Linked DNA regions of Homo sapiens. The main gene of each other region encodes a partner of the protein of the gene in region 2 in a complex. Each region holds a gene or a part of one and is shown on either strand. Other genes may lie near its edges. The genes, in order: ARF1, AP3B1 and AP3M1.

Region 1 (7,625 bases), on a different chromosome or scaffold from region 2:
CTTCTAAACAGAATCATTTTCAATTGCTGTGCCTGTGAAAATCTGCCTGCCTTTTATGCTTTCCCTGTCTCTTCTCTTGTCATTTAGGCTTCTCCTGTTATCAGGGCCTGTAAGAAGCACCACCCTTCCCAGTCTGTTGGCTGACAACCGGCTGCAAGCCCTTGTTACCACTGTGTGAGAACCAGGAAACCAGGATTAGTCAAGGACTTTATGGCTTATCAGCCAGCCTCACTGTCTCCCCATCCCTGTAGGTGGCTGAGTGACAGGACCCTGGGGGAGGACCTGAGAGCCTCCTGGGAACAAAGAGCATCCAGGACATGTCTGTCAAGTCGCTAACAAGGTCATCTGACCCACCTGAGAATGTGAAACTACCTATCTGGACGGTGCGGCAGCTGCGCAGCTGTAAGGCAATAAATGCAACTATGCCTTAGAGAGCTTGTAACAATCACAGGAGAATATTAACCTGAGGATGAAGGCAAGTCCTGGAATCCCAACATGAAGGGGCCAAATCTTTTCCAAAAGACCACTTCAGACGCTACGGGCAGAATGCCCCTACCAACCATCCACGCCAATGAGGAGCAGGCACAACACAGAAAACACAAGTTCTCATAATTTAAGATCCCCACTGCGAGGCCTTTTCGTGTTTCTCTCCCAATTATCTTTGACAGTGCACTCTATTTCCTTTCACCCTCTTGAATTTACGGAGGTGAAAGGTCAAGGGGAGAGAATGCCTATGAGAGACAGTATGGGCCCGCCAGCCCAGGCTGGCTGCAGCCTCTTGCTCAGGAGAATGGTCACAGCTCAGGAAGAAGTGTGTAGGAAAGCTTGGTGGAGCCTGGCCTGTGAGTAACAGCAGGTTTAAATACACCAAGGAGACATTTAATTTGAAGAATCTAAAAAGAACTGCTTCAGTTCTCTGAAACCATGGTCATATACTACTCCACGTGTGAACTTGCACAAGTTTTTTTCTCTTAGGTCTACTTCCATGATCACCGCAGCGGCTGACAGTCCATATTAAATTCTACTGAACTGAAAAATGAAAGGTCAAATGCATCTTCCTATAGTTTCAAGCCTGTCTGGTCCGTAGGGGCAGATGAGCAGTTGAAGATGTCTGAATGTCCTCTCCATATTGTGCAAGAGGTACAGCCCATAGCTAGACCACATGATGTACAAAACCAGAACTGTGAGGGGCACAGAACCAGTTTTTGCTTTTCACTCACAGTCATTGTGTGACTCAGCTGTTGTCCAAACCAACTGTTTCAAATCTTTTTCAACTAGCAAATCCGAAAATCTGCCTCACAGGCAACAGCATATTCCTACTGCTGCAGTGATTTGGATTTATTTTCAACAAGATACGCCTGAAGACAAGTGACAGCTATTCTCCAGTCTACCAACATGTGAAAACATGGACAACACACTCTAACAATGTGTCCAATGAGATGTGTGACTAACATTTACACTACTCAATTCTTCTCAATTTTGGACCCAGCTAATAGTACGGCATTTCAGGACCTTATGGTTCTGGCTACCTAGGCAGTGCTGGTGAAAATTCAAATTAAATGAGGACACCATCCATGCGGTCACACGTGTTAGACAATGGCTAACGCAACAGCAGAGGGCCACAGGGGCCGCACACAACTGCACCGCGGCATCTCACACTCCTCCCAACACACTGCGGAAAACGCCAGAACCACCAGCCTTGCAACAGCCGGCAAAGAAAACTGCTGACCACTAGTTCTGAAACAAGAACTACAACTGCCCACTCCAACAGGGGCAGTGGCACCAACTCTACAGCTCTCAACTAGGCGGCGACTTCGGGGACCATCCAAAGCCTCCGACCTCCCTTCTTTTCCTGCCCGCGATTCCGAGTGCATTTCTGCTCAATTCCTGCAAAGCAGCAACTGGCTGCCTGGACTGAAAGGGAGTGCCAGGAGGTGCCGTCGGAATGGTTATTTAACACTCTAGGTGCGCACGGCTGTCCAGCCCCAATCTCACACGCCGTAACCACCCAGGCTGTGCTCCGAGAGAGCGCTGGGGCCGGCCTCTGCGGCCTAGAGTCTGCGAGCAGGTCGTTCCGCAGGCAGGTTAAAGATTCAGGTAGGTTAAAGATTCACCAGCTCAGAAGAGGCCTTCTTATCTACTGCCGACAACGTCAAGGAAACCACCCTGGAGTTAAAGCGAAGATCGACCGGCCCTCTGGAGGCCACCGGTGCCCTGAGTGCTGACCCCAAATTGCGTCTCACTGGTGTGAAGGGAGGCACTCTGGGCTCCCCCGGAGGTCCACGCATTCCGTTCAGCAGACAGGGAAGGGCACGGGGTTCCTGTCCACCTGCCCGCCCGCTCTCACCACCCCTGACCCGGTACCGTCTTCACAGCAAACACGAACTGGATGGAGTCGGGAGGCGAAGATGCAAGCCCCCACCACCTACATGACCTTGACGGCGTCTCAGGCCGCCCGAGCCTCAGTTTCCCGGTCCCCGAGGCGGGGGTCCGCCCGGATGCCGCTCGCTCGCCTGTACTCGGGTGGGGGAGGCCCCACGACCCCCACCGGCCCCCGCGGCCGCTAATCCCAACCGTCCACGCGCGGGCGGCCTCGGGAAACGAGAAAGGCAGAGGCGAGGGAAGCAGGAAGCCCAGGTTTCCTGGAGAAGAGCCCGGCGTCCAAGCGGACTTCCGGGCGACGGGCGGGGGCAGGGACAGGCAGAGGAGGACAAGCGGCCGCGAGCGACTTCGGGAACCTGTGAGGGGTGCGAGGAGCTCACCGACCCGCCCGTCCGCCCAGCCCCGACTCCGGCCGGGCCCCAGCCTCAGCCCGGCCCGTCTGCGTCCGCCCCCGGCCCGGCCCTGTCGCCGCCGCCGCCGCGGGGGTCGACGTGCCCTTCGCGAACCTCAAGTCGCCCCGAGGCCAGTCCCCAGCCCCCGCCGGCTCCAACGTCTCTGCGGCCCACACCGGCCCGCGCCCCTCGCCCTCACCTCAGAGGCTGCTGCTCCGAGCCAGGCGTTGGTTTTGCTCCCACAAGATGGCGGCTCTGACGGCGGCCACGTCAGCGCCTCCGGGCGCGGGGCACGCCGGGTAAGGGGCGGAGACGCCGGGAACTCCGCCCACCGTGCGCCCGCGACGCAGGCGCGCTGGCTCCGGTAGGGCTGCAGGGGGCGGGGCCGGGGACACCCTGCCCCGGGCCGCGGTCTTAGCTCGCGCGCACCCTAGGGGCGCGCACCCGTCTGCGCCTGCGCCTGTGAGTCTTCCGCGAAGACAGCCTGTGGCTCACTCCCGCCCGTTTGGCGTATTTGGAGACTGAGGCCCGGGGGGCTCCTGCAGCAACTGGAGCTGCGGGGCTGGTTGCCACCTTCCTCCTCCCACACCCGGCAGTCACCGGGAGGCCTCGGGGACTGCGTGAGGACGGGGGTGCGAGGCGCCCCTCGCCGGGGTTGGGGTTCCTGGCTCCCAGGCTGCGCGGGTCCACGTGCCCCGGCCCTGTGGAAACCTGTGGCACTCGCGGGGCCACGGCGGAAGGTCCGAAGGCGGGAGGCTTGCTGTGTCCCCGCACTGGCCTCGGCGCCCCGGCGGCCGCAGTGACGCGCGGGCTCATACCTGGGCCCGGAGCAGACGCCGGGGAGCTGGCCGCAGATGAAGCAAAGGAGGAGGTGGCCTGGGGACCCCGGGGTGAGGCGGGGGCCGTGGGGGTGGGGCCCAGGGTTGGGGACGGCCGCCCAGAAGGGAGGTCACAGTGGTCTCTAATGAGCTGGCCTTTAAGCTGAGATCCAGTTGAGGCGGAGGAGATCCCGCTCTCAGGCACCTGAACAGAGGACCGTTGCAGTCCCTCTGTGTTCCGTGTGCTGGAGGCCTGGCTCTGCCCACCACCCTCAGGTCTTCTTGCCTCTTCCCTTGTGCTGCTGTGAGGGGTTGGGCTTGTGGGAAAGTGTCCCTGCAGCACAGTGCCCTGGGTATTGTGGAGGTCGGGAATCAACCTGATTTGTGCAGGCCGAGGCCCGGGGGCAGGGCCTGAGGGGTGGGATCACTGGGCCTGGCCCAGGCCTCCTGCGCCCCTTTGCTGCCCCCATCACCTACGTTGCTTGCCCCTTGGGCAGGGCGTCCTCACTGCCTCTGGAGGCTGCGATGGGCAGATCTCTCCCCCAGGGCTGCACCTGCGGGGGCTACGAAGGTCCCCAAAAGCGGTGACCCTCCTGCCCCCAAATTTAGTCCCTTTTTCTGCCTGGGGCTCCCTTCCGAAATCTCACCTCTGTGAAGCTGTGGCAGGGTTGTCTGTTTAGGGGAAGGACGTCTCCCACCCTACAGGCATCTCAGATACTCTTGGAAAGCCCCAGGGAGGGTTGTGGATGCCTGTGGAACCTTCTGGTTGTGCTGCCTCTCCCTGCTCAGCCAGAGCGGGGCCATGTGCGGACATTTCACGGGGGTTACATGTGGTTATGGCCTCTTTAGGGCTGAAGGGACCTGGCTTTGGTTCTCTGCTGGCAGAGCGTGGCCAGGGGTGGCTCCAGGGTCACTGAGCGGGGATTGTGTGGGAACCAGAGCCTGCCTCCCCTTCCTTTAAAATACTTTTTATTTATTTATTTATTTTTGAGATGGAGTCTTGCTCTGTCGCCCATACTGGAGTGCAGTGACACAATCTTGGCTCACTGCAATCTCCGCCTCCCGGGTTCAAGCAATTCTCCTGCCTCAGCCTCCCAAGTAGCTGGGATTACAGGCGCCTGCCCCTATGCCCAGCTAATTTTTGTATTTTTAGTGGAGACAGGGTTTCACCATGTTGGCCATGGCTGGTCTCGAACTCCTGACCTCAGGTGATCCACCCGCCTCGGCCTCCCAAGGTGCTGGGATTACAAGTGTGAGCCACCGTGCCTGGCCCCTTTAAAATATATATTTTTTAATGTGAAAAAATGCAGACAGGAAAGAGTGTATGTCAGATACATGCACAGTTTAAAAAGTAATAAAATGGATTCCTGTATAGCCAGCCCTAGGGTTAAGAAATGTACCTTCCCCAGCCTGGGCAACATAATCTCTACAAAAATTTTACAAAGATAGCCAGGTGTGGTGGCACACACCTGTAGTCCCAGCTACTTGGGAGGCTGAGGTGGGAGGATCGCTTGGGCCCAGAAGTTCAAGGTTACAGTGACCTAGTAGGACTGTGCCACTGCACTCCAGCCTGGGTGACAGAGTGAGACCCTGTCTGAAAATAATAATAATAAAAAGTCCCTTCCTGCTGATTCTGTGCTCCTGGTTTGGGCTCCCCACCACCACCGGGGCAAAGATGATGTCTTCAGGCCAAACAGGCGCAGGGGAGCCCAGGTAGTCACACCCAGATTTCTGCCCCTGGAAGGAGACCCACTAGGGAGTTAAGAAGTGTCAGGCAGTGAGTTCCTGGGGTAATTGAGGCCCAGGTGCTCCCCCAACGCTGCCTAGGGAGTAGGGATCCCTTTCTCTCTCCTCTGAGGTCCCTGGGATCAGATGAGGTTTAGCCAAGAGGGGTGGGATGAGCTGACTGGAGGGAGGGGTTTGGGGGCCAGGCTGGGCAGGGACCCTCCAGCCTTCGTGGCCGCCTCCATTGTCAGTCTCAAAGACGCCAGCTCAGGTTGGGCTGGGCTTCTCTCCTCTGGGGGTGGCTGCACCCGAGAACCAGGTCAGAGACAGGGATGCCAAACAACAGAACGGGCTGGCCTCCTAGGGAAGGTGGCTGGAAGGACAGATGGGCTGTCTGGGGCAAAGGAGCAGGAATACCCATGTGGGAGACCTAGTAGGCAGCCATTGTGGCTAGGTGAAGGGGACCCCAGCCCACCTCAGGCCTGGCAGGCACTTTGGTCAACCTCTGAGTGCAGGGCTATGAAGTGTGCGGCATTTGAGCCAGGCCACAGATGTTCAGAGAGGTCTCACACGTACCTGATGTCACACAGCTAGGATGGAACCCCTCTGGAGCTTGACTACTCCATGCCCAAGTCTGCTTATTGCCAACACCTTTACTCTTTCCCCAGCCCTGCCCTCCCTCTTGGGGAACAAGCACTTTGGTGCCTCTGCAGACTGCAATGTTATCTTGGATTCCTCCAGTGATGGGGAGCTCACTACTACACCAGGCATCCCAGGACAGAGTTCACCTCTCTGGATATCCTGCCCCACTCTGTCTCCAACATGGTTGCTCTGCCCGCTCTCTCTGTTGGGAGACTCTAGGTGGGCTAAAGCTGGAGAATCACACTGCAAGATGCCAGGGTGTTCTGCAGGGTGGCGCTGCCTCCACCAGAGTCAGTACTTCCTCCTCACGCTCAGGGCTTAGTCCAAACACTCAACCTCTAAGACCTGTGGCAGGAAGAACTCATACCCTTAAAGACTTCTCTGGGGGGTGAGGTGGGGATAGGACCCTGCTGTCCCCTCTGCCTGGCCCTGTTTCCTTCTTCCCCAGACCCCTACCCAAAGCCTACCCTCTGGCTGGTCACACCACAGGACCTGGAGCACGCCACAGGAATTATTACGGCTATGCTGACTGCATGGGCCCTGGGAGAAGCCCCCACCTCCCAGCTCAGGGTGGCCCTGCCCTGCCTTCTGGGCCTGGGCTGGGGTCTGGGGTCATTCGGGAAGCCGGTGGCCAGTGGTGAGGGTCCCAGCGGCTTGCCTGCACTACACAGTGGCTTAGGAAATTACAGTTGAGTTCCGTGAACTCCAGGGAGTTTGCTCACAGTCGTCTGATTTCTGGTCCTTTTAAAGCATCACCTGTTTCCCCTTATATTCACTCCGGCCTCAGTTTCCCCATCTCCTGCCAGCCCTCCAAACCTCAGATGAAAGCCTAGAGCTGCACATGTCCCTCCCCTGGACTAGCTCTCAGGGGACCTTGTTTTCCCAGGCAGGCTGGCTTCTCAGGGAAAGGACTGTTTTCTCTCTGGTTCCAGCCTATTGTCATGCCTGGGTGGACAAATGGGGAGCCGGTGAGGTGAGCACCCTGGGGAGGGATTGCAGAAAAGCACATCTTGGCTCTTCTTAACCTCTGAGTGACATTTAGCATTTCCTCCCATCTTAAATGCAAGCAGCATTCCCCAAAAGCAGTATTAGCAATACCTGTGGTTTTTGTTGCTGAAATATCAGAACTTTTCATCTCAGAGCTGTTGCATGAAATCTGTAAATATTTTCTCTCTTTTTTATTTTTATTTTTAAAGACAAGGTATTGCTTTGTTGCTTGGGCTGGTATTGAACTGGGAAAATGACCCTCCTAACCCAGCCTCCCAAAATGCTGGCAGTACAGGGGGGTACCACCACGCCTGGCTGGAAATATTGTTTATACTCCTCGATCAACTGGAGTGACAGAGGCGGCCTGGTTTTATCATTTCAGGTGCTAATAACAAAAGAAGTTCTGACTCTGGGTACATGTACCGATCCACTCCTCCTATCAGGATAACAAAATACCTGGCATCCCCAAAGTGACATGCCACAAGTCTTAAAGTGTCTGATGGCACCATTTCCCCAGTCCCGTGCATCACTTATCGTAGGCATTGGTGAAACCCCACTTGTCAGCTAGAGTGGTCCCTGCCTGCACACATGAGCCTTCTGCCTGTCCTGGACTCAGACAGTGGCCCTGACTGTGGGCCTCTGCCTACTTTCGGACACTCCCTTCTGCCCGTGGGACTTG
Region 2 (7,105 bases):
ACTACATTAACCGATTTCTTCTGGATATTGAAATTAGGGTTGTTATTTTTCAGCTAACCTGTATCTGTAAGTTTTCTAGAAGAAAAAGGGGATATCAGCAATTCTCCAGCAATTTTCCTTCTCTCTAATGCATCATCTATTTTCTCTCCTCTACATCAGTTGGTTCCATCAGCAAACAAGATAATACAGTTTCTCCTACCTTAAGGAAAAATTCCTTGACATAACATTCCTCTCCAAGTGCTGCTCCATTTCTCTGCTCTTCTATACTTAAAAATATACTAATGGCCAGGCGCGGTGGCCCACGCCTGTAAATCCCAGCATTTTGGGAGGCCGAGGTGGGCAGATCATGAGGTCAGGAGATGGAGACCATCCCGGCTAACACGGTGAAACCCCGTCTCTACTAAAAATACAAAAAAAATTAGCTGGGCGTGGTGGAGGGCGCCTGTAGTCCCAGCTACTCGGGAGGCTGAGGCAGGAGAATGGCGTGAACCCGGGAGGCGGAGCTTGCAGTGAGTCGAGATCACGCCACTGCACTCCAGCCTGGGCGACAGAGCAAGACTCTGTCTCAAAAAAAAAAAAAAATACTAACCACAATTCTTCTTCTTCCTTCTCTCTTGAGCCCACTCATGAGGCTTTCAGCCCCACCAGTGCACCTAAACTGCTTGTCACGGTCACCAAAGTCCACCCAGTGACAAATCCAAAACTCCCTTCTCAGTAATCATCTTACTTGACCTATTTGTATTATTTGACACAATTACTCCAGGAATGTCCCAGGACTGACTGACTCTGACCTTTTTCTACACTCACTTCCTCAGTGTCTCATCCAATCCCATGATACCTGATGACTCCCAAATTTATACTTCTAGCCTGACTCCTCCTCTAAGCTCCACACTCTGATATCCAACTGCCTATTTAGTATCTCCACATGGATGCCTAATCGCATCTCAAACTTAACATGCACAAGCTCTTGGTCCCTTTCCCCCTTTAAAAAAAAATTCCTCTTTGCACAATATTCTTCATTTTAGTTGACAGCTATTCCAAACTTCGAGCTGTGTAGGCAAAAAACTTTGTATCCACCCTTGATATCTTTTCTCCCACACACATATCACATCCAAACTATCAGCAAATCTCATTGGCTCTACCTTTCAAATATATCCATAACTCACCCACTTCTCTCCACTACCACCAATCGGATCACCTTCTCTTGCCTGAATTACTGTAATAGTCTCCTTGCTGGTCCTTGCCTCAAATCTGCAGTCCACTCCTAGTTCAAGAGGCAAAATGTCCCTTTAAAGGGTAAACAATCATTTCACCCCTCTGCTCAAAACTCTCCAAATGGCATCCCTTCTCACTCAGAGTAAAATCAAAGACCTTAACAATGATTTTACAAGGCCCTACACAATCAGGTCTCCGCCTTCCACTCTGCCCCTTATCTCTCTGCCCTCATATTTTACTAATTAATTTCCCCCACATCCTTCTTGACCACATTCTCAACCTAGGCTTTAAAAACTTGCAGAAAACCCATTCCAAGAATAAAGTTGGGTGATGCCTAGCTCTGCCAACCTATGATTTTGGAACCACCCTACTATGGTTTCAATGTGTCCTCTCCAAAATTCAGATGTTCAAACTTAATGGCCAATATGATAGCATTAAGAGGTGGGGCCTTTAAGATTTAGTCATGAGGGCTCCTCCCTTCATGAATGAGATTAAGGCCCTTGCAAAAGAGGCTTCACAGTCTTCCATTCTCTTGCCCTTCCACCTTCTGCCCAGTAAGGACACAGCATTACTCCCCTCCAGAGGATGCGGCAACAACAGACCATCTTAGAAGCAAAGAGCAGCCCTCACCAGGAAACTAAACCTGCCTGTGACTCAATCTTGGACTTCCTGGCCTCCAAAAATGTGAGAAATAAAATTATATTCTTTAGAAATTACCCAGTCTCAGGTTTTTTGTTATAGCAGCATAAAACAAACTGAGACAGGGCCTTATTCATTCTTCTCTCATTTGTCCAGCTACCATGCCAACTCACTCAGCTGAATTAAAGACAGTGGACTTCTAATTAGGCTGGTTCCTATCAGCAATATAAATAATCAGTCCATCAATAAACAGATATTGGCTATAAACTGTTCACTTTTGTAGATCTATTAAGTCTTTCCAGCTGATAGGCTAAATAAGCCTTCTCTAAATACACGAACCAACGTTATTCATAATAATATGAAATAGAGGAAAATCATTTCCTTCTTGATTATTCTACTTTAAGCTCTTCATTTTAAATTTTGAATTTGGACTGCAGGCAATTTGTTTTTGTCAGTAGTTCATTTATATACACAAGTGAAATACTGTCAAATTATTTCACTGTAATACATTTGTCATTCTATGAGCATTTATAACTTTTCATGCAGCAAAAAAGAACATTTCAACCAACCATCTGTCTGCCTTTTTCATGTGCTTTAATCATTCAGCTCTGGTAATGTTGCTCCAAATACTAAATTTTTTTTAAATAACATAAAATCTCACATCTTATGATTTAATGGTAAGGCTTGAAATTTAATTTTCAGATTTTTCTCCTCAAATTTTACCAGATCAGTGATTTTAAAAATAACATATCCTACTGTCAAGAAAGAATATTTTCTTGAATATTTATTAAGACAAAATGTAGAAGTCAGAACCAACTCTCCTTCAAGGAGATATGCAAGCAAAGCAAAATAAGATAAAAGGTTTTATAATCTGTTGGAAAGTAAGACTCTGTTTACAGGCAGTATTTCATCAAATTTCTATTCAATGTAGTAAAATCTTATTTAATTTGAAATATATTTCAAGAATTAAATCATAAATGGAACCCTACTGCACCACTGAAATGACAATCCTTAATTTGAATAGTTGGCCCTTTGTAAAACTTACGATCTTATTTTTATGAAGACAAAAACAACTAGTTCAGCTGCTAGGAATGCACTGCAGATGCTAGTATACAGTTTCTTCTTTTATTTTTAGTCACCTTGGAACAAATGCTGAAATTTAGTGAAAAATCAATAAAATACTAAAATTTCCTAATAACTTAATGTACCCCTTGTAAAAAAAAAAAAAAAAAAGTAGGATCCAGTTTACATATGTAGCAAGCAAATATGTTAACAGCTCTAGTACCAGATCTAATGACCATAAATTTCAATTAGCTAAACATAATAAACAAGACAGATCAGTTATCAAACCTGGAATTATTAGAACACAAGAGATTTAAATCTTCATAACTAAAGATGATCAGATGTATAACAGTATGCTGACAAAATCATGACTGAAGCATATTTTCATAGCAGCAACCCTGAACTCCTGAGCACAAGAGAAAGGAATTCACAATGAGGAAGGAGCCCGTGCCTCTTCATGTCATGCTTATGACTCAGGGCACCAACACTTCAACGTCTCAAACTAAAATGTCCTTAACATTTCAAAATTCCAGCATTTCCATTTTCTTCAGTAAATCACTGTTTACACAAACAAAGGCTTATAACAAATAATTTTCAATAGGTATGCCACACTGAAAAGTTGAATTACACAATTTAACACTAATTGTATACTTGAATTACTGACGGTTAGTTCACATTAGCCTAATCTCTCCAAATAAAGTCTGAGTTTCTTAAAAACAAGATAAAGACACTATAATTGTTATGCATTTTTATGGTGAAAACACAGAGGAATGAACCATACATATGGAATAATCCAAGACTGGGAGGTAAAGATGCCTTTGAAGACTGGGATAAAGACTAAAAATCCTGATTGTAAAGTTCATTCCATACCTACATGACAATTCCGAGTCAGTTAATCCTAACCACAGCAAAGACCCAAGTGAACTACACAAAATTAGCTTCAGGGTGATGCTGTACTACAATACAATGGAGATACCAGATGAGGGTTTCCTTCTGTATAGGGTCCACGGAATCAGTCATGCTTCATTTTTTAACAACATTGGCTAATGAGAGAGCAAATGTTAATGGAATCTAAATCACTGAATTGAGTAAAAGGATCTGAAAATATTTTATTAAGCAAAATTATGAGCCAAACACTTTGCTAGGCACCTTCACACAAATCACAGTCTTTAATATGAGCAGAATGTGTGAACGATTTATCTATATAAATATTTAAGAAATATTCACTGAGCAACTACATAAACTGAAAATACACAATGAGATAAAGTTTAAATGAGAAATACTAGGATAAGCAAAAAGAAAGTAGAGCAAGCTCTAAACAACTAGACCATGAAAAAATGTTAAATGAAAAAAAAAAACACCCAAAAATATGGTACAGACACTAGATAAAATTAAGTATTAATAAAAAATGGACTTAAACACAAACAAGTTTAGAACCCATAGTGAGACACAATGACTCTTTGAGGTAGGTCAAATATAATGCGTTACTATTAATAAAATTGTATTTTTAAGAAAGTATATTCAATAACATCCCTCTAAGTAAATGAATCTCACTCAGCTGCATTTCTATATGCCTTTCAGAAAGATACAAAAAGTAGTGGAGATAAAGTCAGAGTTGCTATAATTGCGTACAAACCACAGACACATGTAATCTTCCTACTGGACTCTCCTGAGAATCACTGATATTAAAGGTTAAGAATGAATGTAATAGAATTTTCATGTTTGATATTGTAAAGTTGACAATGAATAAGATTTAAGTTAAAAAATAAGTCAGGCTTTATTGATGCAATCCAAATACACTGGGTTGTATTACTGACTACAGGAAAGCATGCAGTACTTTGCTTGGATCTAAATTAGCTCTTTGAATCTAAACAAATGAAAAGCCCACCCCGATTTAAACAGAGTAAAAATGCTACCTTTCAACGTGTGCAGGAGGTACTGCATTGCTAAGTTACTGGCTGCTAAAGTCACCTTTCAGTTGTTAAACCCAAGGGCCTCTTTTCAGCCTTCATTCTATTTGCCCTTACTCTACAACTCCTGACATAGCTGAACATTTCCTTCTTTTAATTTTCCTGTTAGCATCTTCTTTTTTAAACCTTCCTGTGTTTTCCCACCCTTCTGAGCTCAGTCTCTTTTTCTAGTTCTTCCATTCATACTTTATATCCTGTTGTCCCCTGGGTTTTGTCCAAACTGCCTTCTCGTCTAACAAGAAAAGTCTTCCCTGGGTGATTTCATCCATTCCCATACTTTACTACCTACTATTCATAATTGTGATGTCTAAATATCCATCTCATTTGAACATGCTTTTTCTTTTGCAAATCTTCTGGTTTCTACATACTCTGCCTAAAGAATCCATCTTTCCTCCCCCTGGCAAAAACCTCAGGCTTTAAGATCTAAAGTGTCACTACCTCAGTGAAGTCTTCACCAACTTTCCCAAATAGCGTTAGTTAATATCCTAGTTTAGAAATCACTTTGAAGTACACCATCTCATGAGATCCTCACAAAAGAGGCAAGTATTATCACATCCCGTCTAGAAATGAGGAAACTGAGGTTTGAAGAGATCAGCAACTTGAACAAGGAAGCACTACTACAAATGGAAAACATCAACTTAAATCCAGGTCTTCTAACTCTGGGCCCAGTGTTTTTTGTTTTTTCTTCCCATTTTCATTTATAGAGACAAGGTCTCACTATGTTGCCCAGGCTGGTCTGGAACTCCTGGGTTCAAGCAATCCTCCTGCCTGGGCCTCCCAAAATGCTAAGATTACAGGCAGGGGCCACCATTCCCAGCCTCAGTCTTCCTTCTAATACACCAAGATGCTCTCAAAGGAAAAGAGATTTACAAATTTAGTAGCTTTACTATTGTAATTAAGAAAAATTAATTAGTCTTGTCTGTTTCTAGAAATTAATTCCTAATTAAATGTTTAATCCAGTAACAGAATTATTAAAATTATTTTTAATTATAGGCACACATACCCAAATTGGTTAAAAGAAGTTTTTTTTTAAATGAAGAAAAACAACTTAGAAAAAAACAGAAAATAAAAGTTGAGAATATTTTAAAAAGAAGGAAGGGGCCAAGCACAGTGGTACACGCCTCCAATTCCAGCACCTTGGGAGGATGAGGCAGGCGGATTGCTTGAGCCTAGGAGTTCAAGACTAGCCTGGGCAACATGGCAAGACCCCATCTCTACAATAAATACAAAAATTAGCTGGGCATGGTAGCATGCACCTGTAGTCCCAGCTACTCGGAAGCCTGAGGTGGGAAGGATCACTTGAGCCCAGATGGTTGAGGCTGCAGTGAGCCATGATCACACCACTGCACTCCAGCCTAGGCAACAGAGTAAGACATGTCTCAAAAAATAAAAAATAAGAGTACAAAAATAAGTTCTTTACATTTTAAATAAAGAAATTGAAAATCTTGAAGCCAATAATCTAATACACAGGCCTTTTTAGCCAATAAATTAGGTATAGGATCTACTTTCATAAAGCCATCTAATTCTGCTTCTGTTTGAAGAGAGGAGAAGATAAATAATATTGATAAATAAGATTAAATTCAGAAAACAAAAATTGCCGATAATACTATGACTAGGAAGTACCTAGGCATCATTGAGATGGTTAGTGAAGGATCAGTGAACACAGAGCTCTAGGCCAAGAAGCCAAAGAGCAGAACAGCAGAGGGAGTTGCAGCTGAAACATTACCATTTTGCAGCCATTGTGGAAAAGACAGGTTCAGGAGATTGATCAATGGTTGTTAAATGTAGAAGTGGTCCATTTAAAAAAGAGCAAGACATCTGCATGGTCTCAGTGTCTCCCCACAGATAATTTGAAAAAAAAAAAAAAAAAAACAGAAATGACACCACAGAGAAACTGGACAACCCTGTGACTAGGAAAATTAACATCATGAAGATGGACAACCTATGCCTCCAAATGTAATAGTTCAAGAAGCATGCATCACCTATGGTAGTATCCCAGCCAAGGATACATAACCTGAATCTAAACATGAGGAAACACCAGCAAACCCAAAAACTGATTAACATAAAATAAAATAATAGGCTTTGCAATCCTTAGATATGTCAAATTCATGAAAGACAAAAAAGGCTAAGGAACTATCCCAGATTAAAGAAGATTAAAGAGACATGGCAACTAAATTAAATATATTATCTTGGACTGGAAACTGTACTTGAGGAAAAAA
Region 3 (7,105 bases), on a different chromosome or scaffold from region 2:
AACCCTTACATTTATGGTCAACTGATTTTCAACAAGGGTGCCAAGACCTGGGTGACCAGTTGGAGAGAGAACAACCTTTTCAACAAATGGTACTGGAACAACTGGATTTCCACATACAAAAGAATGAAATTGGATACAAAAAGCAACACAAAATGTATCAAAGACCTAATTGGAAAAGCCAAAATGATAAAACTCTTAGAAAAAATATGCATAGATTTTGACTCTGGATTAGACAATGTTTTTTAAGATACGATACCAAAAGTACAGACAAGAAAAATAAAAAATAGATAACCCAGAGTCCATCAAATTTAAAACTTAGTGCTTCAAAGGACATTATCAAGAAAGCAAAAATTCACAAAATGATAGTAAATATTTGAAACCATATATCTTAAAGGGACCCCTATCCGGAAAATATAAAGAACTTTTACTCAATAATAAGAAGGGCCAGGTGTGGTGACTCACAACTGTAATCCTAGCACTCTGGGAGGCTGAGGAGGGAGGATTGCTTGAGCCCAGGAGTTTGAGACCCCGTCTCTATAAAAAAATTTAAAAACTAGCCAGGCATAGTGGCTCATACCTGTAGTCCCTGCTACTTGGGAGGCTGAGGTGGGAGGATTGCCTGAGTCCAGGAGTTTGAGGCTGCAGTCAACTATGATCCCACCACTGCACCCTAGCCTGGGTGACAGAGGGAGACCTTGCCTCTAAAACATAAAAAATAAATAAATAAACAAGCCAATTAAAAAATGGGCAAAGGATTTGAAAAGACATTTACTCAAAGAATATATACATACAAACGAATCTTACAAATACGATGTTGAATAAATGAAGCCAGATGCAAAAGAATATACACAGTATGATTCCATTTATATGAAGTTGTAGAACAGGCAAAACTAATCTACGTTAAATCAAATGGTTTCCTTTATGGAGAGTGGAGGGCCATGGGGATGATCTCCTAGAGTGCTGGTAATGTTTTATTTCTTTTTTATTTTCCTTTTTTTTTTTTTTTTGAGATGGAGTCTTACACTGTCGCCCAGGCTGGAGTGCAATGGTGTTATCTCGGCTCACTGAAACCTCTGCCTCCCAAGTTCACGAGATTCTCCTGCCTCAGCCTCCCTAGTAGCTGGGATTACAGGCACACACCGCCACACCTGGCTAGTTTTTTTTTTTTTTTGTATTTTTAATAGAGACGAGGTTTCACTATGTTGGCCAGGCTGGTCTTGAACTCCTGACCTCGTGATCCGCCTGCCTCAGCCTCCCAAAGTGCTAGGATTACAGGAGTGAGACACCGCACCTGGCCAATGTTTTATTTCTTGACCTGCATGATGTTTACAAGCTGTGTTCCTTCTATGATAACTCATTAGGCTTTACATTGTGATTTGCATACTTTCTGAGTGTTAGTTATGCTTCCTATAAGAAGTTTATTGTCCCTGCAATATGGGGGACAATGGAAAAATGTCTAATTATCTTACCTTGTTCCTATCTTTTACGTGTATAAGCACCAGTATCAGGTGTTTAGTCTAGTGGCTCAATCATTCCAAGTAATAGTACTATAGTCTAAGAAGAAAGAATTTAAGACCTATGAATACAGTTTCTATGAATGAAGATAAATTCCAAAGAGGAAAGGAAGACTTTCCAGAATTGATTCATTTGATTCTGTTGACAGAAAACAACATCAACCCTTTCTTTTATGAAAGCGGCTGACATTTAAAGAATATGTGGTGATGATCTCCTCTTCCCATTCGACACATGTTCAGTAGTTATCAATAATACTAGTTACTAAGATATGTTTTAGTAATTATTGTATTAATAAAGTATGAATACTGTTAACAGTTTAGGGTTCCTGTTTAATTAGAACCAAAAAATTTCTTTGTTTAAAGCCCTCTGTTTAGCCAAGAAATCAACTTGAGTTATTAGCAATAAACTCTGACACCTCAGGGTTGGAACCTGCCAAATTTTTCTACTTTATCTAGTCAGATGCTTTGCTTAGTAGGCTTGCTTTGTGTCTTATATTTCTGTCTGGGTATTAATATAAGTGCCATTAGAATACTTAGACTTGCTATATAGAACCTGCTGATTTTAACTATAATCTTTAGCTGATAAACTTTTCATTTTCATTTTTTAAATGAAACAGGAATATCCAACCATAAGATCTGCAACTAAATTTTTATTATTACACCTTTTTCTTGGAAGAAAATCAGCATCTGAAATATATAATGTATGACTTCAAGTGGAGCACTGTAATCCACAAGCAGACTCAGATTTGGGCACTTCAGGTGAGTCACATATGGAACACAGCATTCTTTGCAAAAATTAATCTTTTGGCCCCATTCAATGTGGTTATTTTTGGCCAGGCACAGTGGCTCACGCCTGTAATCCCAGCACTTTGGGAGGCCAAGACTGGTGGATTACCTGAGGTCAGGAGTTCAAGGCCATCCTGGCCAGCATGGCAAAACCCTGTCTCTACTAAAAATACAAAAATTAGCCGGGCATGGTGGCGTGCGCCTGTAATCCCAGCTACTTGGGAACAAAGCTTGTTTGTTTGTTTGAGCAGAGTCTCCCACTGTCACCCAGGCTGGAGTGCAGTGGTGTGATCTCTGCTGACTGCAACCTCCGTCTCCCATGGGCAAGCAATTCTCGTGCCTCAGCCTCCTCAGTAGCTGGGATTACAGGTGTGCACCACCATGCCCAGCTAGTTTTTCTGTTTTTAGTAGAAATGGGGTTTCACCATGTTGGCCTCAAGTGATCCGCCTGCCTTCGCCTCCCAAAGTGAAGCTACTGTACTCAGTCCCCATTCAAAGTGTTTTATTCATTAAAGATAATGAATAATAAATGAATTAATACTATCTAAAATGTATTGAGTACTTATTATGGGCCAGACACTATGCTAGACACTTTATCTCATCTTATTTTCACAATGCTACACCATAAATACTACTATTATCCCCATTTTACAGATAAGACAATGTCATCTCAGAAAAGTTAGGTCAATTACCTAAGATCACGCAGTAAGCTAGGATTCAAACCTAAATCCAGCTGAATTCTGAGCTCCTGCTCTTATCTGCCTTGTAGAGACTAATTATTAGGAACACGTTCTAATACAGCACTGTCCAACAGGGCTTTCTGCAATGATGGAAATGTCCTTTATCTGTGCTAATATGGTAGCCACTACACCCATGGCTATTGAGCACTTGAAATGTGGCTAATGTACCCAATACTGAAGTTTTAATTTTTTTGAAATTTTAATTAATTTTTTTTTGAGACGGAGTCTTGCTCTGTCTCCCAGACAGGAGCGCAATGGCGTGATCTCTGCTCACTGCAAGCTCCGCCTCCCAGGTTCACACCATTCTCCTGCCTCAGCCTCCCGAGTAGCTGGGACTACAGGAGCCCGCCACCACGCCTGGCTAATTTTTTGTATTTTTAGTAGAGATGGGGTTTCACCATGTTAGCCAGGATGGTCTCGATCTCCGGACCTCATGATCCACCCGCCTCGGCCTCCCAAAGTGCTGGGATTACAGGCGTGAGCCACCATGCCCGGCTTTTTTATTTTTATTTTTTTTTTGAGATAGGGTCTCGCTCTGTTGCCCAGGCTGGAGTGCAGCTGCGTCATCTTGGCTCACTCCAACGCCCACCTCCAGAGCCCAAGCGATCCTCCCACTTCAGTCTCCTGAGTAGCTGGGCTTACAGGCGTGCATCACCACACACAGCTGAGTTTCAAATTTTTGTTTTGTAGAGACAAAGTCTGCCTATATTGCCCAGGCTGATCCTGGACTCCTGGGCTCAAGTGATCTTCCCACCTTGATCTCCCAAAGTTCTGGGATTACAGGTGTGAGCCACCAAGCCTAGCCTGAAGTTTTAATTTTAATTAATTTAAATTTAAATAACCATATATGGTTAGTAGTTAATATATTGAACAGTGCATGAATGTGCTGCTTTAGCTTATGATTTTTTTTTTTTTTTGAGACGGAGTCTTGCTCTATTGCCCAGGCTGGAGTGCAATGGCACGATTTCCTCTTACCACAACCTCCGCCTGCTGGGTTCAAGCGATTCTCCTGCCTCAGCCTCCCGAGTAGCTAGGATTACAGGCATGCGCCACCATGCCCAGCTAATTTTTTGTATTTTTAGTAGAGATGGGGTTTCACCATGTTGGCCAGGCTGGTCTCGAACTCCTGACCTCGTGATCCGCCCGCCTCAGCCTCCCAAAGTGCTGAGATTACAGGCATGAGCCACTGCACCCAGCCTAGCTTATGATTTAAGAGGAGGAGGTAAAAGACATTTCTTGTTTAGTTAGGAGGCAAAAGACATTCTAGTTGTTATGCTGAGGAAGTTTAATAAATTATTTAGAGTGGAAGTTATATTTAAAAGCACCGACACAGGTTATCTAAAATCATTCATCCTATCGAAAATATAGTTCACAAGGATTTATAGTGCTCCTTTGCCACAATACACTCTGAAAGAGTTGCTTGTTTTGAAAGTAAGTGATTTTGTAGTTACTTTATTTTAGGGCCAGATCTCTACTCATCCTCTTAAGCTGGTGAAAAATTCTTTCCAGGAAAGTTTCCACCGAAGTTGTTTTTATTGGCAGTAGTTCAGGTCTCAGAATACAGAAAGTTAAACCAGCCTCCTAGATTTATTGTTGTTATCCTTAGTGCTGAGATGAAAGCATAACACTTGTAAGTTCTCGACTGTGCTTAGCTTTAAAACCCATCTTAACCTTCTATAATAGGAAAAGAGAGCTTACTTCTTCTATCCATATTATGACCAAGGTCTAATGCATATAACAATTAAATAATACCATGTTGCAGTGTAAATTAGCCTGTTTCTTTATTTATCGTCCTTTTGGTAGCTGCAGTTATTTTTTTAATTATTATTTTCATAAACTTTCTGAGAAAACTACACACTCATTATTACCACAACCATCTTTTTGTTCCTAGTGGCTTTTGAGTCATAAAACAGAATTCTCCCAGCTTATTTAAAAGCCACTAGAAGAAACTGTGTTCAGAGGCAGACCCACCAGAGCTTTGACTGCAGCTTAAATACATCATAAATCCTTTTTACTAAACATTTTATAATCATCCTGGGTAATTCACAAGCAATGCATTTACAATAGTCAAAATATTCTTGGAAGACAGTGTCTAAAAACAAAAATGTATTCCTTCTATATATAATATGATGGAGGCACAGAAGGGCCTATACTGAACTTGAGAGAATGAGACCAGAAAAGCATCTACTCTTCTGATTCTCAGCCAATATCTTGACCACATATTCATTCAACACAGAGTTTTGAGGCACTGGGTATATAAGAACAAACAAAATTAGAGTTCCTATACTCACAGCATTTAGAGATGAGCAGAGAAGACAACTTAATACAGTTAAGATGTAATTCCTACGATGATACAGGAAATATAGTGTGCTGTGGGAATCTACAAGGCTTAGAGGTGAGAGAGAACACAAGACAAATAAATCCAGTATAAATTTAGCAAATATGGAAGGTGGAGGGAAGAGGGGAGATGAAACTGGACAAGGAGGTAAGCAGAGACTGATTGGTTCATGGAGCATGCTAAACTTGTTAAGGAGTTTGGACTTTATTCTTAGTGCAATGTAAAGTCATTTTATAATTTTTTTAATTAATCATGCAATCCGATTTACATTTTTAGAAAGATCATACTAATTACACTGCGGAAACTGGATAATCGGTAACTGAACACTGTGACACCAGTTGGGAGATGAGTGGTGATGGCCTGGTCTAGAGTCTTGACTATGAGGATGGGGTACAGTGAAAAGATAAGAGAAACATTTAGGTTTTGTGCTAAAAAACATTTAGGCTTGGAGGAGGGGGTGTGTGGAGATGAGAGAGATGTGTCACTTGGCCTGGTCCTGTGTAATTTGACCAATTCTGGATACATCTGACCCAAATAAATATATTCAAAAAACTATTATATATACCCTTCTGGTGCTTTAGAGAAGCCAGATTGGAATCAGAATTGTAAGTAATCAGGATTTTTTGTTAATGGGAATTAATCAAAAGGAGAATTGAAACAAAAGAAAGAATGTGCATAGTATGAAGAGAGCTTATGGCAGGAACTCCAACATTTGAGTAGGAGGTGGGTCAAGGAAGTGGACCTAAAGAATGACCAAGATGTGACTGAAGAGTCCTAAGAAAAAAAAAAAAACAGGGTGGTTTTTAGTAACTATAGCTTATTAGTGTATTTCCAGAAGAATGGAGTGGTAAATACTGTTACATGGCACAAAGAGGTTAAGCTACGAGAATTGAAAATGTCAGCTGGGCGTGGTGCTCACACCTATAATCCCAGCACTTTGGGAGGCCAAAGTGGGAGTATCACCTGAGCTCGGGAGTTCGAGACCAGCCTGGCCAACATGGTGAAATCCCATCTCCACTAAAAATACCAACAAATTAGCTGGGTGTGGTGGTGGGTGCCTGTAATCCCGGCTGCTCTGGAGGCTGAGGCAGGAGAATCGCTTGAACCCGGGAGGTGGAGGCTGCAGTGAGCCGAGATGGCGCCACTGCACTCTAGCCTGGATGACAGAGCGAGACTCCATCTCAACAACAACAAAAAAGAATTGAAAATGTCTGTTGATTTAAGAGTGTTTTTTAAACTTTCTTTTCCTTAATGCCTGCTAAGGAGCCCTTTTAGACTCCATCTTCTCACCACCCTGCCAATCAAATTCCTCACCCATAAAACTTTTTATTATTCTTTCTTTTTCAACTGTAAATTGACAAATTATAGTTGTATATATTTAGGGGTACCAGATGTTATGATTTATGAAATGTGGAATAATTAAATGAAGCTAATTAATATCACCATAAAATTTTAATACCACAGAATATTCTCTGTTTATGTATTGTATTTGTGCTTTACACATAAAAAGAGTATTATATTTTTTTCACCTCACAAGAAGCAGTTTTTATCTGCTTTGAGAATGCATGATTTAACACACAGAGGACACTGGTGATCTTGGTAAAGGTAGTTTTGGTGGGCTGGGTGCGGTGGCTCACACCTGTAATCCCAGCACTTTGGGAGGCTGAGGCGGGCAGATCACGAGGTCAGGAGTTCGAGACCAGCCTGGCCAACATGGCGAAACCCTG

What was found.
Region 1: the proteins of AP3B1 (region 2) and ARF1 are in contact, whole or in part, in a cryo-EM structure (PDB 9C5B), measured with the Homo sapiens proteins. Residues at the interface, in NP_003655.3 of Homo sapiens: Glu52, Asn54, Pro81, Val84, Lys85, Val87, Ala88, Asp111, Leu112, Leu114, Leu115, Ile117, Ser118, Thr119, Gln121, Arg122; in NP_001019397.1 of Homo sapiens: Glu17, Arg19, Tyr35, Ile46, Pro47, Thr48, Ile49, Gly50, Phe51, Asn52, Val53, Glu54, Lys73, Ile74, Leu77, His80, Tyr81, Asn84.
Region 3: the proteins of AP3B1 (region 2) and AP3M1 are in contact, whole or in part, in a cryo-EM structure (PDB 9C5A), measured with the Homo sapiens proteins. Residues at the interface, in NP_003655.3 of Homo sapiens: Leu60, Lys64, Val67, Gly68, Ile70, Ala71, Lys72, Gly73, Ile92, Glu93, Lys96, Leu97, Val100, Arg104, Glu107, Asn128, Gln129, Leu130, Arg137, Arg143, Ser163, Pro164, Tyr165, Lys168, Asn169, His172, Gln175, Lys176, Leu202, Ser206; in NP_001307192.1 of Homo sapiens: Met1, Phe15, Leu16, Glu17, Trp20, Lys21, Ser22, Val23, Gln26, Val42, Glu43, Asn44, Val45, Pro46, Pro47, Val48, Ser50, Tyr55, Ser58, Ile59, Tyr60, Gln71, Thr72, Glu73, Val74, Pro75, Pro76, Leu77, Phe78, Ile80.

Annotation. Positions count from the first base shown.
Region 1 is NC_000001.11:228,078,114-228,085,738, reverse strand, and holds the start of ARF1 (ADP-ribosylation factor 1), read right to left. Parts: upstream 3,032-7,625; 5' UTR 2,974-3,031; exon of another isoform or gene 2,889-2,973; intron 2,606-2,888; exon of another isoform or gene 2,365-2,605; intron 1-2,364. UniProt on the Homo sapiens protein: Small GTPase involved in protein trafficking between different compartments. Modulates vesicle budding and uncoating within the Golgi complex. In its GTP-bound form, triggers the recruitment of coatomer proteins to the Golgi membrane.
Region 2 is NC_000005.10:78,284,682-78,291,786, forward strand, and holds part of AP3B1 (AP-3 complex subunit beta-1), read right to left. Parts: intron 1-7,105. UniProt on the Homo sapiens protein: Subunit of non-clathrin- and clathrin-associated adaptor protein complex 3 (AP-3) that plays a role in protein sorting in the late-Golgi/trans-Golgi network (TGN) and/or endosomes.
Region 3 is NC_000010.11:74,140,724-74,147,828, forward strand, and holds part of AP3M1 (AP-3 complex subunit mu-1), read right to left. Parts: intron 1-7,105. UniProt on the Homo sapiens protein: Part of the AP-3 complex, an adaptor-related complex which is not clathrin-associated. The complex is associated with the Golgi region as well as more peripheral structures.